Regions from separate parts of the Homo sapiens genome. Here regions 1 and 3 are each linked to region 2. The links come from fine-mapping of genetic effects on gene expression. A gene starts in region 2. Each other region holds a variant in brackets. All regions are shown on one strand. Distances are from middle to middle.

Evidence for each region. PIP is the estimated chance that this variant, and not a neighbour inherited with it, causes the effect.
Region 1: its variant is the best candidate, but not a certain one, in a credible set for the expression of SLC41A1 in skeletal muscle (FUSION, PIP 0.55).
Region 3: its variant is the best candidate, but not a certain one, in a credible set for the expression of SLC41A1 in sun-exposed skin (GTEx, PIP 0.79).

Annotation. Positions count from the first base shown.
Region 1 is chr1:205,779,414-205,783,648 of GRCh38, reverse strand. No RefSeq gene overlaps it. Among named protein-coding and RNA genes, the nearest start is that of RAB29, 6.0 kb to the right of the region's middle. The variant G/AG (reference allele first, on the strand shown) is at 1,806.
Region 2 is chr1:205,810,594-205,814,828 of GRCh38, reverse strand. SLC41A1 (solute carrier family 41 member 1) reads left to right here and starts at 1,631. Exons shown (of 11, transcript NM_173854.6): 1 at 1,631-2,021; 2 at 3,742-4,235. RefSeq lists silencers at 1,271-1,500, 1,641-1,900 and an enhancer at 1,337-1,837.
Region 3 is chr1:205,838,600-205,842,834 of GRCh38, reverse strand. PM20D1 (peptidase M20 domain containing 1) reads left to right here. Exons shown (of 13, transcript NM_152491.5): 7 at 84-159; 8 at 620-681; 9 at 946-1,024; 10 at 2,512-2,583. Among named protein-coding and RNA genes, the nearest start is that of PM20D1, 9.4 kb to the left of the region's middle. The variant C/G (reference allele first, on the strand shown) is at 2,321.

The sequences.
Region 1 (4,235 bases), 31 kb after region 2:
AACATAGGAAATTAGAACAGTCATGTCTGTGTTGGAAGGGAACTTTATTTTGTTTCACAGATGAGACTTTCCTGTGCCATATGGACAGTTGGGAACCACACAACCAGTTCTTTGAAGCAAAATTTTCTCTTTAGTTTTCACTTTTTTCCTGTCTTCTTTCCCTGGCCTTTATTTGGGGTGGAAGGAGGGTAGCCACAGAAGGAGGCAAATGTGACAACCAAGGCAGTGAAAACTATAGTTTGATGTTTTCCCTAGATACTCCCAGGCCCAAATCTGGCCTAGACCCTTGGCACGGGCCAGCAGAGGAATGACTGGCAGGCTGCCCTTTGAACTTGCCAGCCTCTCTGTCCTGAGGGTTTCCTTGGGCACCTTGCTGCGAAGTCTTCCAGCTGAATGCTTAGCTGGGTCACAGGCATTTCACCAAGCTGCCTGCCCCTCCCCAAAGCAACAGCCAAAAAGTTATGATCATCGAAGTGAGTCTGGGGGTTGGGGCTGAGGAACAGCTGTAGCCTCTTGACCTCACCCTTCTCTGGGTCTGTCCCTCTCCTCTGTGCTGCTGCTGGGCCATTTGCTATGTCACTTCAGTCTTCCCTTCATGTTACAAAGCATTTTTCCACTCTGCTCCTAGGACAATGTTGGAGGCTCTGGAGATTATATAAGCTGTCTCTCTCCTATTTGAAGTCAAGCTCCCAAGTCCTTAGGAGATTGCCTGGCACCAGATCATTTCTTCAACAAGTGTTCATTGAATTCATAGTGTAGGCATCACTAATAGCTACCTGACATCAGCAACATACTAAGATGCACACCACATCCTCTGTGTGGGGCTCTTGCCCAAAATGTTTCTTAAATCAAATCTTGAGGCAATAAACAGACAATCCAGGATATGCGACTTCCTGTAAGACAACTGGCATGGACTCTAAAAAGAAAGTCAAAAAAAAAAGGGCAAGGGATTGTTATAGACAGTACTGTCCAACAGACCTTTCTGTGATGATGAAACTAGTTTATGTCTGTGCTGTTCAATATAGTAACTGCTAGCCAAATATGGCTGCTAAGCACTTGAAGTGTGGCTAGGCAACAGATGAGCTGGTCTTTACATTTATTTATTTTAATTAATTACTTTAAAAAATTTGTTTAGAGATGGGATCTCGCTATGTTGCCCAGGCTGGTCTCGAACTCCTGACCTCAAGCCATCCTCCTGCCTCAGCCTCCCTGAGTAGCTGAGATTGCAGGCAGGAGCCACCAAGCCCAGCTGATTTTATATAATTTAAATGTAAATAACCACACATGGCTACTGGCTCCTGTATTGGACACAGCATGCTCCTAAGATTGAAAGAGACTAAAGAAATAGAATAACCAAATTCCATGCATGAAACTTCATTGTATTCTGGATGACAGGTGAGGAGAAAATGAGAAAAAAATATTGGGGAGCTATAGAGAGATGTAAATGTAAACTGTTTGTTAGATGATATTATTGGATTAAGGTTAATTTTCATAGATGTGACAATGGTATTTTGGGCTGGGCGAGGTGGCTCACTCCTGTAATCCCAGCACTTTGGGAGGCCGAGGCAGGCAAATCACTTGAGGCCAGGAATTCGAGACCAGCCTGGCCAACATGGCAAACCCCATCTCTATTAAAAATAGCTCGGTGTGGTAGCGTGCACCTGTAGTCCCAGCTGCTTGGGAGACTGAGGCAGAAGAATTACTTAAACTCAGAAGGCAGAGGTTGCAGTGAGCCAAGATGGTGCCACTGCACTCCAGCCTGGATGTCAGAATGAGACTCTGTCTTAAAAAAAAAAAAAAAAAAA[G/AG]ATAATGGTATTTTGGCTTTGTAGGATAATTTTATTATTAGGAGCTGCATGTTGAAGTATTTAAGCTTGAAGTGTCTGCTACTTACTTTCAAACAGTTCAACACACACACAAAGAGACAAAGCAGATATGGCAAAATGTTAGTAATTGGTAAATCCCGATGAAGGACATATTAGTATGCATTGTACTGTTAACTTTTCTATGGGTTTGAAATTTTTCAAAATAAAAAGTGGAAAGTAAAAAGTAGAAAAGAGAAAGGCAGACACATACAGGAAGTGTGGTAGTTACAGAGCAAGGCTGACCCCTTTCCCCAGCTTCCAAACTATATTTCCAAACATATACCAGTTGACCCTTGAACAACACGGGTTGGAACTGCACAGATGCGCTTACACAGGGCTTTTCTTCCTCTTCTGCCACCCCTGAGACAGCAAGACCAAACCCTCCCCTTTCTTCCCCTCCTCCTTGGTCTATTCAACATGAAAACACCAAGAATGAAGACCTTTATGATGAACCACTTCCACTTAATGAATAGTAAATATATTTTCTCTTCCTCATGATTTTCTTAATACATTTTATTTTCTCTAACTTACTTTATTGTAAGAATATAGTATATGATACATATAACACACAAAATATGTGTTAATTGGCTGTTTATGTTATTGGTAAGACTCCCAATCAACAGTAGGCTATTAGTAGTTAATTCTCGGGGAGTCAAAAGTGACACACAAATTTTCGACTGGAGGGTAGGTAGGCATTCCTAACCCCTGAGTGGTTCAAGGGCCACTATATGTGCAAATCAATTGTTTGGCACCTTGAATGTGTGTTCTCTTTCTCTTATTTATATCCGTCTCTCTTAAAAACTGAGATCAGAAATGCAATTTAGTGTTGAAGAAATACACCTTTCAGCCAGGCGCAGTGGCTCATTCCTGTAATCCCAGCACTTTGGGAGGCTGAGGCAGGGGGATCACTTGAGGTCAGGAGTTCAAGACCAGCCTGGCCCACATAGTGAAACCCCATCTCTACTAAAAGTACAAAAAAATTAGCTGGGCGTGGTGGCAGCTGCCTGTAATCCAAGCTACTCGGGAGGCTGAGGCAGGAGAATCGCTTAAACCCAGGAGATGGAGGTTGCAGTGAGCCGAGATTGTGCCACTGCACTCCAGCCTGGGCAGCAAAGCGAGACTGTGTCTCAAAAAAAGAAAGAGAGAAAGAGAGAAAGAAAGAAAGAAAAAGAAAGAGAGAGAGAGAGAGAAAGAAAGAGAAGAAAGAAAGAAAAGAAGGAAAAGAAAAGAGAAAAGAAACGAAAAGAAAAAAGAAAAAAAAAGAGAAGAGAGAAAGAAAAACACTTCTCATCCCCATCAAAGAAATGATTACTACTTTGAGAACTGTGTCTTTCAGGGAGTACCAGAAATTTGCTAATCTTCCCTCTTAAATCTTAACTCCCGACCTTTCCGATTTTGGAAGCTAAGAGTAGTTCCTTTCACAGATGATCAGGAGCAAAGTCAAAATTTTGAAGGAAAAATTTACTTCTTCCTGTTTTCTTCGAGACACGCTGGTTGCTTATATAAGTTAAATAGTTACAAATTGGTCACATAGTTAAGTGACCAAAGTGCAAATAGAATATAAATGCTACAGGCCAGGTACAGTGGCTCACACTTATAATCCCAGCACTTTGGGAGGCCAAGGCAGGCAGATGACAAGATCAGGAGTTCGAGACCAGCCTGGCCAATACGGTGAAACCTTGTCTCTACTAAAAATACAGAACTTAGCAAGGCATAGTGGCACGTGCCTGTAATCTCAGCTACTTGGGAGGTTGAGGCAGGAGAATCACTTGAACCCGGGAGGCGGAGGTTGCAGTGAACCAAGATAGCACCATTGCACTCCAGCCTGGGTGACCAGAGAGCGACTCCCTCTCAAAAACAAAAAAAAGGATAGGCCGGGCGTGGTGGCTCACGCCTGTAATCCCAGCACTTTGGGAGGCCGAGGCGGGTGGATCACAAGGTCAGGAGATCAAGACCATCCTGGCTAACACAGTGAAACCCTGTCTCTACTAAAAAATACAAAAAAAAAAAATTAGCCGGGCGTGGTGGCGGGCGCCTGTAGTCCCAGCTACTCGGGAGGCTGAGGCAGGAGAATGGCGTGAACCCGGGAGGCGGAGCTTGCAGTGAGCCCAGATCGCACCACTGCACTCCAGCCTGGGTGACAGAGCGAGACTCTGTCTCAAAAAAAAAAAAAAAATTAAAAAATTAAAATAAAAAAATAAATGCTACAGGTGACCAATAAAGGCTGCAATAATAAGGGAAATGTTTATAAATAAGTAGATATTTAAGTCAGGCCTTGAAGCACCATTTCTCAAAAGTACTATTTCTCAAAGTGGAATGTGGTGTAGCAATCACATGAGTACTTGTCAAAAATGCAGATTAACCTGGGTCACC
Region 2 (4,235 bases):
GGGAACAGTTTTCGAGTAAGTAAAAACACGGAAGGTAGAAAGGAAATAGGAGAGAGATCAAGATTTTATACACAGGTAGCTGAGCTGTGGCCAGATTAAATGGGGTAGTGGAGGGGAGGGAACTGTTGAATAGAACAGGGCAGAAGTTGCCTCCAGCCCAACCAAAGTTCCTCCAGATACATCAGCCTTAATTCCCCACCCAACCCCACACCCCGTATTCACAAACCTCATCTTTCTGGACAAGTCCCAGCATTTCCTAGACTAGCAGCTACTTCTCCTGGCAGAAAAACCCAGTATTTGAGGCCAAAACTGGGGTCTGAGACACTGATATTTTGCTCTAGTAGGTCCTGTGAGTCTGCAGGCCCTTGATGCAAATGCTCCAGAGCTGATCTGGAATCATCCTGGGGGTACTGGTTTGGGGTGGGTGAGGGGAACAGGGTTTGGTATGTGTATTTGTCATCCTTATCAAAAGGAATGACCTGCTCAGGTTGCTGTGTGTGCTCTTGTGAGCACGTGCCCAAAGCTTCATACACAGCACTGCGATCTCTTCTCCCCAGGCACATCTCCGCTCCAAACCCTATTCAGGGGTCTAGAGCCATGTTCGAATGCCCCCGGGCTACTTTCAGGGAGGAAAAGGACAGGAAGGAACCGTTGGTCACAGGTTCCACTGACAAGAGGGGAAAACTTGGGAGTGGGGGTTCCTTTATGAGGGAGGTCACACCCCCTGCACAAAAACATCCCAAAGAGAACTGGCATTGAGCTTGTGTTGGAGAGGTGGAGATACCCCAGGGAGGAAGTGGCGAAAGGTGAGCATGGGAACACCCCTCTTTGATCCCACAAGGTGCGTCAGGGAAAGTTGGATTTCATTTAGTCCGGGATGGTGACATCTCTCCGCACGCTGCCACCAGGCTCAGTGGGTCAGAGGAAGTGAGGCTCCCCTCCTCTCCGACCTCAGGTGATGCGTGTGCGACCCCAGCCATGGGTCTGACCTCCTTTCGCTCCCGCCCGCCAGTCTCCACCCCTTTCAAGGCCGGGACTTTTTTAAGGCCGGATTCGTCAGGGGTGAGCCATTTGCTCAAGGAACGCGGAATCTGGAGGGAGCCTAAAGTGACGAGCCGGCGGGAGAAGAGCAAGGTAGGGACTGTTCTGTCCGGGTACCAAGTGGGAGGAGGGAGCACGCGGCTGGCTGCTTGAGCCCGGGGGTCAGAGGTGGCTGGCTGGCTGGCTCCACAGGGACGTTTACCGGTCTTCCCGAAGGCCAGAGGCTCCAAGGAAACATCCAGAGGCAGGAGAGGACGCGCACTGTCGCACACGCCTCTCAAAGTCTGCTGGGGCTCCGACGCGGCGCAGCGGGCCCGGGGGCGGTAGCACCACGCAGCGAGCCCGGGCAGCGGGCCCCTCGGACCCCGGGCCGATGGGCGCTGGGACCCGCGCGCTCCAGGCGCATGGAGCCGGCTCCCGGTTCCCGTCACTCCTCCTACTGCGTTTCCCCGGCGCCCCGCCTCCTGGGCACGAAGCGAAGGAAGGGGGCCGGGCCGAGGTTGATCCCGCCCCCTCCCCAGTCCCTGATTGGCTGCTGCTGTTGTCCATCCGAGAATCTATTTTTGATGGAGCGGGGGGGGTGCCACCCAGTCTGCCCCAGATCACGTTTGCCACCGGCAGCCAACCAGTTGGGCCCGAGTCCGCGGGCAAGAAGCGATTGGGGGCGCGTGAGCTCGGCTCCCCGGTCCCCCGTCCGGGTGCCCCCCCGCCGGGCCCGAAGCGATATATCCTGCCCTCCCCGGCCACCTCCCCCGCGTGGAAGCGGAGCGGCGGCCTCGCTGTAACGCAGAAGCGAAATGTAGCGAGCCGGGTGTCGCGGCTGGACGCTCGCCTTGGCTGGGGGTGTGGGGGGGCACGCCGGGGGCCAAGGAGGACTGTCGAGGAGGAGTGATGAGAAGAGGGGGTGCCCTGCACCCCCCGAGACCACGGGCCACGCTGCCACTTGCCAGGCGCCCCCCTTCCTCCCAGGCGAGGGGCAGGTCAGTCCTGTGGGGTCCTGGGGCGGGGAGGGGGTGGTGGAGGGCGGCAGTCCTGGCGCGCAGCGCATTTGCTGAATCTGAGTGGTGGAGAGACTGAGGAGGCCACCCAGTTACTTTCTCTCCCTCCTCGGGGTTGGGGATACTAAAATGGGTCTTTTTTGTCCCCGCCTGGGAGGAGGGGATAGGGCGTCCTGGTTCACTTTTGCTTCTTTCGTCCCAGGGCCTTAGGCCTGTCTGAAGTCTCTTTACAGGGGGAGTGGTGAGGGAGGACTGGCTTCCCCTCCTGGGAGCCCCCTCTCAGGTTCAGTGGCCTGCCAGGAACACAGGAGGGAGGCGGGGGTGTCAGCTTTTAGCGGACTCAGAAACTTTTCTGGCATAGGGGCACTGGACTCAGAGGTTTCCTCCTGGATCTCTGGTGAGGGAGTTTGAAAGAACCACAGTACTGTGTTTAAGGAGATTGGAAAAGGGAGTCCTGGTGGGTGACTGAATTGATAGAGGAAACAGTTCTCCTGGGCCAGTTCCTGGGGTTTGATACCTCCTTTCCTAAACTGAACTTGACTAATTGTGTGTGTTTGGAATACTTAAGGACCTGTTCCTCTTACCTGGTGGAACTCTCTTTAAATTTATTTTTTACGAATAAGAGCTCTTCTGGTGAAATGGAATAGGATGGGAGTCCATCAGGAATTAGGAAGCCTGGGGATTCCTTTAGGCAGAGAAGTGGAGCCATTACAGCTAAAGAGATGCATTTGGAGCAAGTGCATATTGGCTTACGGTGCTTTGGTTTTTGTTTTGGGTTTTTTTTATTGCTACTTTTGTTTTTTTGTTTTTGTTTCTAAGAATTCCACTATATCCAACTCTCAGTAACCCTGGGGAACAGGAGGAGCCTAATTAACTGAAATGCGTGGGTAATAAGCAATCGTTTTATGCTCTGTCCCTTCTAACTGAGATAACTCCCTTGTCCTATCTGACAAGCTCACAGGGCCAAGAGCAGGGGGAGACGGGGAGAGACAGAGGCCTGGATCCGAGTCAGCTGTCTGAGCTCTTTGTAACACTGTTGACTCTCAAGGGCAGGAGTGGGTAGGCCTCTGGCTCTTGGCCTTGGTCTGGCAGGCTTGCCCCACTGCCCAGGGAGTCCTCCTAGCTTTGTTTTGTTTTCTCAGAAGCTAGAACGATCTGGGGTCTGGGGGACTTCACTCAGCAATCAGTTTCTCCCTATTTCTTTGCCCTGTGTGGCTGTCTTTCTGTTGCTGTCTTGTGATGATAAGCAGTCACTTTATACAGGGGTGGCTGTGTGGCAGGGAGTTTGTGACTGAATTTGTAACTGAACCCCACTTAAATAATGCAGGGTTCTTAATGGGCATTCAAGAAGGGGTCTTGCTGAGGACACACCTACCCACCCCCAGTTGCTGAGGAAACAGTGCAGAGGGCTTCTGCACAGCATCTTCCCAATCCCAGGCTGGTCACATCTCATTGCTGGTGACCACGGTGGTGATCCCTCAGGAGGGTTGCTGGTGGGGAGGATGGCGGGGATAGCTCCTGCTGAGCCTCCAGATGGAGCAGTGCAGGACTGAGTAATTTTTGCGGAAAAAGGGAGGCAAATAGCAAACTCTATAGCTATATGATGAACTCCTAACTTCCTTGGGGGGAAATTCTCCCAGTACAAGCTGTCCTTTGCTATAGTGTAATGTTCTTTTTCTTTTCTTTCTCCTTCCCACATAAGGTGTTCCACACTGATTCTCGTGACTTTAAGGACCAGGGATTTGAAGAGGTATTAGCTCTTCCCAGGAAGGGAGGAAGTTTCTGGAAGAGAAGGGAAAGACGGCAGACGCTGCGCTGGGACCAGCAGAGCCTGAGGAGCTGTGGGAAGCTGACAGAGCCCAGCCAAAGGAGCGGGAAGGAGCCGCAGCCCCAGGCTGGCACTGTGTTCTGAAAGATTTGAACTCAAGCTGCTTTTTACGGAAGAGGGGCCACTTCAGAGGGCACCCCAGAATTTGGTTGAGCTCTTCTACTCTGGATGCCCCCTGCTCTGAGGAGCCTGCCACTGAGAACCAAAGAAGATAAGAGGACAGATACTTTTTCTTCAAGCACAGAGCTGGTGGGTTGGAGTCAGGCATCTGCACCCCTAGTGGCTGTCTGGTGAGGAATTTCTTGTTTCTTCCCAGCTTGCGGCTTCAGTGCTTGATGGGGCTGCCTGTTGGTGGATCAGTTTTTGCA
Region 3 (4,235 bases), 28 kb before region 2:
TCCTATCTCCCTTCTTCTCCTCTTCAAGCCACTGATCTTTGGCTGGGGTTCGCTAAGTCTTGAGGACTCTGTTTCTCTTCCAGATTGGAGCAGACACCAATGCCTATCATATTTGGAAGCGGGACAGTGGTGACTGTATTGCAGCAACTGGCAAATGAGGTATGGGAAGAAGTATCACATACTCCTAATCAGCTAGGAACAAAAGACGGACAGAAAAGTAACCTTTAGAGTAAGAAAAGGACCCTAGTACTGTCCAGCACTCTGCCTATTCTCACCTATTCCCAGCCAGTGGCTGAGCCAAGACACAGGGATCTGGCTTGTTCTCTACGGCTGTTAGTGTGTTTCTGAGACCCTAAGACCTAATCTACCCTTTGGGAGCTGGTTCCCACTTATCCTTGAGGTTGCTAAGCAATTGTTCTAACCAACCAGATAAGCCCAGCCAGACAGTAATTGCCTCCCTATTCCTGATCCTCTAGCAGGGATTGAGCTAACTGAATTTAGCAGCACTCCTGACTGCTAAGGGCCCCTGAGGCAGCTCTAAAGTAGAGAGAGACTCAGGTCTCAGAGACCCAGGCTAAACTAGAGGTGACCCTGTGGTGCTGACCTTGTTCTTTCCCAGTTTCCCTTCCCTGTCAATATAATCCTGAGCAACCCATGGCTATTTGAACCACTTATAAGCAGGTAAAGTATTATCTTTCCTTTTTTCACATCCCTCACCTCAAACCTACCCACCCCCCAGGCCCCTCTCCTTGGCTTAACTGGGCCTGACTAATCATCCCTCAGCCACCAGATACTGCATCTCTAAGTGTGTATATTTAAGACATCTCTAAGACGTCTCTCTCAGTCTTAAAGATCCCCAAGGTTCAGGAAAGTGGGTAATGTTTCCGCCCTTTCCTTCACCCCATTGGTTCTTTCTAACATCTGACCTTGGTCCTTTTGTTTTAGGTTTATGGAGAGAAATCCCTTAACCAATGCAATAATCAGGACCACCACGGCACTCACCATATTCAAAGCAGGGGTCAAGGTAACATCCCTGGTTCCTCCCCATATAGCTTTTCCCTACCGCCCTCCACTCCTCCCTTCCTTGAATCTATCTACTGGCTCTTCCTTCCTTCTGTGTGTGTCAGCTGGATCCAAGCCTAGCCACGCAAAGACATAGGCCTTTCTGAAATCTTGAAGGGAGTTAGACCATTCTTGTAACTGCCAGTACCACCAGCACAACTTCAGGGGGCACCATTCACCTAGAGTACAATGTGACCTTGAAGCACTCTAGTAATCGGGTATATAAGTGAATGATGCCTCTGAATTAATTCCTGGCATAACTCACTGGACCGTCCAGTGTGTCAGCTGTAGTGTTCATCAGAATAATAGCACTGTGTCCTGACATTTGAATGGTGTTTTCATCTCCCCAGGATACTTTGTTACTCCATCTGAGCCTTCTAAGAGTCCTATGAGTATTGCCCCAATACCCAGTTGAGAAAACAGAGGCACAAAGAGGTTGCAACAGCTAATTTGCAACAGCCCAGCTCTGTCCCTGACCACTTAGTGCTTTTTTGCACCATACGAGTTCAAAGAAAGATATGCACTTGGGGAGTCTCCCGGCCTCCAAGGAACAATCCCTCCATAGCCTAACTCTTTTCTCCAGTTAGTCCTGGATTCCTCCTGGTCAGGCAAAAAAGTCAGATTTTACAACTGGACCTGGGAAACCACCAATCCCTGCTAGAAGGTCGGGAATGGGGAGGCAATTACTGCCTGACTGGCTTATCTGATTGGTTAGAACAATTGCTCAGCAGCCTCAAGGATAAGAGGGAACCAGCTCCCAAAGGTTATGTTAGGTCTTAGGGTCTCAGAAACATACTAACAGCCCTAGAGAACAAGCCAGATCCCTCTGTCTTGGCTCAGTCACTGGCTGGGAATAGGTGAGAACAGGCAGAGCACTGGCCAGCACTAGGGTCCTTTTCTTACTCTGAAGGTTACTTTTCTGTCACTCTTTTGTTCCTGCCTGACCAGGAATATGTGAGGAGTATGTGTTCTTCTCATCCCCCTCAAGGATCAAACCTGATGTGAGCCCCGTGCTATGCCATGATGGGGGTCAACAGAGGCTCTGGCTGCCCCATCGTGAGTAAGCACTAATGTTAACAGCTGCAGAAATGTCCTGGGTGTGCTGGGAAAGAAAGTGCACACAGAAGGCTTCTAATAGCACAGCATGGGGCCAAAACAGAGATATCTGGGTGATCAGAGAAAGCAGCCTTGCTCTGAACATCTCTGTGACCCCCTGCAGCACCAAGAAGCAGGAAGGTCTGGCTTAAAGCAGAGACAC[C/G]CCTTCAGCTCTGAATATAACATGTCACTTAGTTCAGAGAAGACAAGAGGCAGACTAGAAAAGCTAAGCCTTGGGTCCTTAAGTCAAATCAGCCAACTCTGCCTGAGCTGAGGAAATTAGCATTTCCTGGGCAGGCAGATGTAGAAGATTTGAGGTTGACTCAAGCCAGGGTTTTGTGCTTCTCTCTCTAGTTCAATGTCATCCCCCCAGTGGCCCAGGCCACAGTCAACTTCCGGATTCACCCTGGACAGACAGTCCAAGAGGTATGTACCATATGTTCCAGACAACAACTCATGCAGCATCAGGGAGATGTGGCCCTCAGGGCCCGGGTTTAACTACAGTCCTAGGGCTGGTCCAGTGTCCCATTTATTCAACCAACATTTTTCAAAGACAACCTATGCACCGGATACTTCATTAGGATTGGAGATCCTGGGTTTGGGTAAACATGGGGTCTGAAATGGAAGATGAGTATGAATAAATGATAGCAATACCTATAGTAACAAACATTATATATAACATTATATATATGTAGTAGTGTAGTAGGCTTGCTGTGTATTTGGCACCTTTCTTCCTTTCTTTTTTTTTTTTTTTTTTTTTTTTTTTTGAGTCAGAGTCTTGCTCTGTCGCCCAGGCTGGAGTGCAGTGGCACGATCTTGGCTCACTACAACCTCCGCCTCCCGGGTTCAAGCGATTCTCCTGCCTCAGATTCCCAAGTAGCTGGGACTATAGGCACGTGCCACTATGCCCGGCTAATTTTTAGTATTTTCAGTATTTTGTATTTTTTGTATTTTTTGTACTTTGTATTTTTGTAATTTTTTGTATTTTGTATTTTTAGTAGAGACGGTGTTTCACCGTGTTAGCCAGAGTGGTCTTGATCTCCTGACCTTGTGAGCCACCCGCCTCGGCCTTCCAAAGGGTTGGGATTACAGACATGAGCCACCACACCCAGCCATATTTGGCACCTTTCTAAGGTATACCCATACATTTTAATCCTCACAACTACCCACCCTAAATCTGCATTTAACTGGTGAAAATTGAGGTACAGAGTACCAGAGCAATCAAACAGCATACCCAAGATTATATATCTAGCAGTCTAGTTCCAGAGTTTGTGCTTTTAGCCACAACCCTAAACTATGATTATAAAAATTAGAGGTGAACAAATTGCCATAGGACCACTGCAAAGAAAGAAATTCATGCTACTTCTTAGGGTCAAAAAAGTCTTTTCTGACTACTAAAATGTTGAACTGGGCCTTAGAGGAAAAACAGAACTTGGCTAGAAGTAAGACATTCATTGTGGCTTAACGAATAGAATAAACTGGGGACAAGTAATAGGAGATGAAAACTGATAGGAAATGGAGTTGTAGTTTAGGGATCTAGGCCTTGTATGCTATGCTGAGGAGTTTGGGCCCTAATCTGTGAAATCTGTGGCAGGAGAGAACTTTTAGAGGTCTTCAACCAAATACTCAGATTTGCTTTTAGAGAGGTCATGCTAGCAGCATTGCAGAGGGAGTGCTGGAAGAGAAGGAGACAGAGAGCTATTTCAGCATCTTAGGTAGTGCATGTGAAGGTCTGGACTGAGGCCATGCTCGTGGGGTGGAGAAGAGAGCAACCACCAGAGGTGGGAGAGAGGTGGGTTCAATAGGATGTGGTATGTATATGGGTATGGAGCGAGAGAAAAGCAGGATGGCTCCAAGGTTTTTAACCTGGGTAGTTGACCAAGTAGTTAATGCCTTTGACTAAGATTGGGAATTCAGAAATTAAAACAAGTTCAAGAATATCATAATTTGGAAGTTTGAGAAGCTTATAACATATGAAATAGGCAATTATAAATACCTCAGGTCTGGAGAGAGATATGAACTAGAGATATAGGCTGGAGTGTCATTAACATCATGGGAACCTCTAGATTCAATAAAAG